Homo sapiens: one gene and its partner. The protein of the gene in region 1 purifies or fractionates together with the protein of each later gene. This does not show direct contact. Each region holds a gene or a part of one and is shown on either strand. Other genes may lie near its edges. The genes, in order: CNTN1 and ECE1.

Evidence for each region.
Region 2: the proteins of CNTN1 (region 1) and ECE1 fractionate together in Homo sapiens (co-fractionation; one large-scale study listed by BioGRID). This does not show direct contact.

Annotation. Positions count from the first base shown.
Region 1 is NC_000012.12:41,066,150-41,069,711, forward strand, and holds part of CNTN1 (contactin-1 isoform 1 precursor), read left to right. Parts: intron 1-3,562. UniProt on the Homo sapiens protein: Contactins mediate cell surface interactions during nervous system development.
Region 2 is NC_000001.11:21,280,464-21,284,287, reverse strand, and holds part of ECE1 (endothelin-converting enzyme 1), read left to right. Parts: intron 1-3,824. UniProt on the Homo sapiens protein: Converts big endothelin-1 to endothelin-1.

The DNA of each region.
Region 1 (3,562 bases):
TCCTGGACTGAGTAGTAAAATCATTGCCTTCTGATATTATATTATGAATTTTTAATATTATCTCTTTAATAGGAAAAAACTATTTTCTGAGGAAAAGTAATCATAGGAAGGTATAACCCCTTTCTTTGTCCAGGTTCCTAGAAGTTAGAGAGATTATGCAATATAGAATAAAATAAAAAGAAATATCAGGGGTCACACTGAAGGTCACAGTGGTTTCCTCTAACCATCTTCTTCCTTAGACCCCCTGTGCTCTGTAATAAGAAAAAATTCAGGGCCTACAATGGAGGCATAACTCAATCATTTAACATTATAGGTTGAGTACTTTCTATGCACTAGGCTTGGTATTAGTCAACACAGCTAAAACATAATTTGGATATCATCTCTGTCTTGAAGTTGTTCATAATATAGAGATATTAGCAGTTGTGGTCACAAAATGTGACACCACAAAGAGAAAATTCTAAATGTTATGGCATCGTCAGCAATAGGCAAGCAGTAGAAACAAAGACTGCATCACAGTGTCCAGATTGAAGAATCAGAAAGGAAGTTTGTATTAAAAACCAAGTAGAGCAGTTTTCTACTTATCAGAAAGCCTGCAGTACTGCTCAACTTTTAATTGAAATGTCTGTTTTCAGCATCACTCTCCATATAGCGGGAATTCTCCCTGAAGGAAGTATGAAATCAAAGTTTAGATTTAAAAAAAAATCAAGAATTCCCATGGAAGAGATATAGTACTCCAAATTGGTTTTACATTTCTTCTGATAGAGAAAAATTATTCACAAGATCAATGATTTGTTCAGGTTTAACATTCATCAGCTATGTGAAAAGCAAAATATGTGTTTACTATATAACACATAAGTACCAGAATTATGATTGATAGCAGTATTCTGATATATATGTTGTTAGATTCAAAACCAATATATATTGAAAAACTCCTCAAGAATATATGTCATTTAAAATGACATTAGATAGTACTTCAATTCGGTCTCTAATTTCTGTTTGGAATGTGGGATAGAAGTAAAGATGAAGACCAAAATTACATAAGCTTGAGCCATTAGAGAAATTAAATATAACACACGTAAACATGGAGAGTTTATTTCAAATATCCTGATGTCAAAGCCACAAATTATGAAATTGTATTTGGTTTTCATACTAGTACCAAAACATCAAGATGGCATCCACAATTCACTAAATTTCTTTCGAGCAGCCACAGTTTGTACTTTGCCAACCCACATATTCAGCCAAGTACATAAACATGTCCCCATGATAGATGTAATTTGTGGTCAAAAGACAGAGCATTGTGGAGACCCTGCAGTCATCCTCAGACAAAAAAGGCTTCAGAATGATGATTTCCAATTCCTATCACAAGAACAAAAAACCAAACACCGCATATTCTCACTCATAGGTGGGAATTGAACAATGAGATCACATGGACACAGGAAGGGGAATATCACACTCTGGGGACTGTGGTGGGGTGGGGGAGGGGGGAGGGATAGCATTGGGAGATATACCTAATGCTAGATGACGAGTTAGTGGGTGCAGCGCACCAGCATGGCACATGTATACATATGTAACTAACCTGCACAATGTGCACATGTACCCTAAAACTTAAAGTATAATAAAAAAAAAAAGGCTTCAGGATGGATCATTTACACTGGGTCAAACATTGACGTTTAAAGGTTTTACTGTGTGATTGAGGTTTATTATTGGGCATCTTATCAGAATAAAATAATGTGTGGTCTGTGGCATATTTTAAAAAATTTGTAGAAAAGTAGAAGATAAAAAAAATTACAAGAATACAAAGATCTCTTTGAAACAGTTTATGTGTTAGCTTTTTTCCATATGACATTTATTATTTTCCTTCTGTGCCCTTGCCTTGATACATTAAGTGCAGAGCGCAGTTTCCTTCTGCATTTCTAAAACCAGTCCCTTGCTAAAGCTACCTGCAAGAACACGGCAGAGAGGTCAAAAGTGCATGGCCTTTGCAGCTGGACAAATTTGAATTCTAATCCCTTCTCTGCCCTCTAGTGACTATTGGACTTGAGCAACTCATTTTACCTGACTCAGTTACAAAATATATAAAATTAGGGTAAAAGACCTACCATTGTAGGTTGTTGTAGTCATGTCATAATCTACATAATGAGCCAACATAGTCTTGTAGCTGGCTGTAGGGCAGTAAGTAGCATCTCTCAAAGTAATGATAAGTTTACTATTGTTATTGATAGTGTCCTTAGGAGCTCTGCTACTTGAGGGCTGTTTATATTCCCCTTGTTATCTGCCCTCACCTTTTGACCCTCACTTTCCTGCTCATTTCTAAGAACTACTTTATCTGTATCCGATAAAGCTTTCCCTCTTATGTTTCCAGGCAGCTCCAAAAGCCCCAGGCAGGGCAATGTTGAAGACAAGCAAGCAGACAGACACTATTATCTTCCACCTTATAGGGAACATGAATGTGCTTTTAATGACCAGAGATTCAGGAGAAATGCACTAAATCTCCCTGAATATAAAAGGACCATGCCAAAGAATGAGCTGTTTATGGTCACTTTTAATGTGATAGATAATAATAATTTATTTGGTGGTTTCAAATTTAGAGAGTAAACTTCCAAAAATTAATGAAAACTGTTATATTAGTAAGCCATTGACTAAATTTTTTAGGTCTTCACTCATTCTAGCAGCATGTTCATTGAAGATAGTGCCAGCCAGGCATGGTGGCTTATGCCTGTAATCCCAGCACTTTGGGAGACTGAGGCAGGAGGATCACATGGGCCCAGGAGTTTGAGGCTGCAGTCAGCTATGACTGAACCACTGCACTCCAGCCTGAGCAATAGAACAAGACCCTGTATCTTAAAAAATAATAATTAATTTATTTAAAAAGAAGATAGTGCCTAATAGTTGTGGACATTGGGAAGAAAGAGTATGACTTTTTGGTCCTACTTTACAATAGTTTCTCAAAAATTCTCATGTCGGCAGGACACGGACCCATAAACTTACTTGACTACAGGAGTAGCCCTTCTAAGTGTCACCCAAGACGTAAATTAAGTCCATAGCATATTATAATACATCATTTCAATTTTTAATTCACAGTGTAATATCTCAGGGCAATTGTTCTTTAGATAAAAATTGAATGAGATTATTTAATATCAGAAATACATTACTTAAGTCATTCTGTATAAATGTATAAATGTCTTAAAACCATTGGGATGTGAAATTATGCAAGATTTACCTAGCATACCTATGTTGTCATTGTTTCAGGAAAAATTATTAGTATTTTTACTGTATCTCTTTTTTTACATTTTATTATTATTATACTTTAAGTTTTAGGGTACATGTGCACAATGTGCAGGTTTGTTACATATGTATACAAGTGCCATGTTGGTGTGCTGCACCCATTAACTCGTCATTTAGCATTAGGTATATCTCCTAATGCTATCCCTCCCCACTCCCCCCACCCCACAACTTTATCTTATTTTTAAAACTTACTTTTTTAATGCATGTATATATGTTTCTTGACATTTTGCCTTCTGGTAGGAATTTGGGACTGCTGGATCATAGGGACAGCATACAC
Region 2 (3,824 bases), on another chromosome or scaffold:
CTACCCTCCAAGCTGCTTAGGCCAGTCTCCCATGCTTGACGGGACCTCATTTCCAAAAGAAACGTAAGAAACCAGTCACATCTCCCCATGCTGTGACCTCATCTCACGGATCCCCTCCACAGTCCCATGAAGGAGGCTGGGCAGGTGCGACAGGGATGCAAAGAAGAGACTCAGCCGAGGCCAGCGGCCATTGGAAGCAGATCGGTGCCCTGACTCACGGCCCAGCCCTTTCCATTGCACCCAGGAATTGGCCACCCTGCCCTGGAGAGGCCTCCTGATCCTGGCCTAGTACCTCTAGGTGACTTCTCCTGCCCCAGGGTGAGGCATCTGGATTCGTTCTGCCTTTAGAGACAAGGCTTATCCAGAAACCATGAGGCCCGTAGCCGATAGTACAAGTCAAGCAAAGAACAAGACAAAGGTTAAAAACTCCATTTTCAAACTCCATTTGCCATTCTTGCCTGGAACTATGAATTTTTAATTCAATTCTGGCTTAATTTTAATTTAATTTTGCAGTGAACACCATCTGTTTAGATTCAGCACTTTGCATCAAACAGTGAGGGTCAGCTCCACTTCCTGTGGTAGGTCTGCGGCTGCCAGTCCTGGAGACGTGGGTTGCCTCACTGTTCTCTCTCCTCTCTCCTTGCCTTCATGCCCCGACTTCCTGGGTTTCTTCTGGAGCTAACGCTAATACCTACTCTTAGGAATGTTGTGAAGATAGGCTGGGTGCAGTGGTTCACGCCTGTAATCCCAGCACTTTGGGAAGCTGAGGCGGGCAGATCACCTGAGGTCGGGAGTTTGAGACCAGCCTGGCCAACATGGTGAAACCCTGTCTCTACTAAAAATACAAAAATTAGCCCGGCGTGGTGGCGGACACCTGTAATCCCAGCTACTCGGGACGCTGAGGCAGGAGAATTGCTTGAACTCGGGAGACAGAGGTTGCAGTGAACAGAGACCTCTCCACTGCACTCCAGCCTGGGCGACACAGTGAGACTCTGTCTCAAAAAAAAAAAATTTAAAAAAAATTCAAAAAAAGGAATGTTATGGGCCGGGCGCTGTGGCTCACGCCTATAATTCCAGCATTTTGGGAGGCCAAGGCGGGTGGATCACGAGGTCAGGAGATTGATTGAGACCATCCTGGCTAACACGGTGAAACCCCATCTCTACTAAAAATACAAAAAATTAGCCAGGTGTGGTGGCATGTGCCTGTAGTCCCAGCTACTTGGGAGGCTGAGGCAGGAGAATCTCTTGAACCCGGGAGGCCAAGGTTGCAATGAGCCGAGATGGCGGCACTGCACTCCAGCCTGGGTGAGAAAGCAAGACTCCGTCTCAAAAAAAAAAAAAAAAAAAAAATAATGTTGTGAAGATAGAATTGCACTATCAAAATAGAATTAATATGATCCCAGGCCCTTAGCACTCAAGTATTTATTTGCTGCCATTGTTCTTTTTTCCCTTTCCTATCCCTCTGTTTCTTTCATCTTCCCCTTCTGTTCCTTTCTTCTCTCCCTTCTCTCCGCAGATGGCTTTGCTCCTTGCTCTTAGCTGTCTCCTTGTCGCCCACACCATGACATTTCCCTGTACATTTAAGGTGAGGTTTTCCTGCATCCCAAGCCTAGTGGCTGCATCCTTTGGCTCCCTGGAGCCAGCACCAGGCACAGGGGTACCTCTTTTCTTTTCTTTTCTTTCTTTTTTTTTTTTTTTTCAAGACAGCGTCTCACTCTGTCACCCAGGCTGGAGTGCAGTGGCGTGATCTCTGCTCATTGCAGCCTCCAGCTCCCAGTTTCAAGTGATTCTCTCACCTCAGCCTCCCCAGTAGCTGGGATTACAGGCATGAGCCACCATGCCTGGCTAATTTTTATATTTTTAGTAGAGACAGGGTTTCACCATGTTGGCCAGGCTGGTCTCAAACTCCCAACCTCAGGTGATCCGCCCACCTCACCCTCCCAAGGTGCTGGGATTACAGTCATGAGCCACTGCGCCTGGCCTCTTTTTTACTTTTTTGAGATAGGGTCTTGCTCTGTTGCCCAGGCTGGAGTGCAGGGGCACAATCATGGCTTACTGCAGCCTCGACCTTCCGGGCTCAAGCAATCCTCCCACCTCAGCCTCCCAAGTAGCTGGGACTACAGGTGCATGCCACCATGCCTAGCTAATTTAATTTAATTTTTTTTAAGAGATGGGGTCTGACTGTGTTGCCCAGGCTGGTCTTGAACTCCTGGGCTCAAGCCATCCTCCTGCCTCAGCCTCCCAAAGTGTTGAGATTATAGGCATGAGCCACCATGCCTGGCTGATGGGTACCTCTTAAACCAAGGTCTCATCCAGGTGCAGTCCAGCACTTTGGGAGGCTGAGGCGGGTGGATCACGATGTTAGGAGTTCGAGATCAGCCTGACCAACATGGTGAAACCCTGTCTCTACTAAAAATACAAAAATTAGCCGGGCGTGGTAGCACATGCCTGTAATCTCAGCTACTCAGGAGACTGAGGCAGGAGAATCGCTTGAACCCGGGAGGCAGAGGTTGCAGTGAGCCGAGATCGTGCCATTGCACTCCAGCCTGGGTAACAGAGGGAGACTCCATCTCAAACAAAACAAAACAAAACAAAACAAAACACTGTCTCACGGCCTCCTTGTGCCCTGTGAGCTGAGCCATGATAATGGGGACATGAGAAGCCTAAAGGAGGAAGGATGAAACAAATTAGGGGCAGCAGGACACATACGTCAGTGTCCCTAGGCAAGGCAGTCCCTGCTTCAAGTCCTTGGGACCCCTCTGAGTACCAGAGACCAAGGTAAAGTGTGTGAGATAACTGATTACTCTGAAAAAGCACTTTATAAACATTTGAGTACAGTGTACATGTTAGCATCATACCAGGCTGTCTCTCTCTGCACCAGGCCCTCACAGCCTGAAGTTTTAATTCATGGTCTGAAACTTTCATTGCTCACTTTTTCAGAAGAGATTCTTGAGGGATTTGAGCGGGCGGCATCCCTCCCACTGCCTGACCCAGCTGCTTCAGTGTCTGAGCCTCCTGGGCCTCCACGGAAGTGTCTCTAAGCCCCAAGATCCTTTGCTCAGTTTTGTTTTGTTTTGTTTTGTTTTGTTTTGTTTTCCGAGACGGAGTCTTGCTCTGTCGCCCAGGCTGGAGTGCAGTGGCGCAATCTCAGCTCACTGCAACCTCCGCCTCCCGGGTTCAAGCGATTCTCCTGCCTCAGCCTCCCGAGTAGCTGGGATTACAGGCGCCTGTCACCACTCCTGGCTAATTTTTGTGTTTTTTAGTAGAGATGGGGTTTCTCTATGTTGGCCAGGCTGGTCTTGAACTCCTGACCTCAGGTGATCCTCCCACTTCAGCCTTTTAAACTGTTGGGACTACAGGCATGAGCCGCCGTGCCCGGCCCCTTTTCTCAGTTTTGGAACCCAGTTTTTTTTTTTCCACAGAAAGTGCTTGTGTTCCTCCATCTCTGGTGCAGCAATTCCCAGTCATTTCCTGCCCAGTAAATACCTAACCATGGCCACGTGGCTTCTCAGTACCCTTCCCTCAACTGACCCACTTCAGATCCCCGAGTGCCAGGGTGGGACTCCCTCAGGGCTCTGACCCGGCACCAGGGGCACCCCTCAGGCTGTTGGTGGGGCCGTTGCAGGTCAGAGTCTGAGTCTCCTCATCTTCCCTGACAGCTTCCCCTCTTCCTGGCAAGCCTTGCTCCCTCCACCCTGCCCTTCCCAAAGGGTAAATCTAATCATGTCACTCCAGTCCTCAAGAGGAAGTCCAGGCTCTTAACCTGGCTTTCTGTGCCCCTTAGGATCTAGGCCCTCCTCTCCTCTCCACTTCCATTCCTTCTT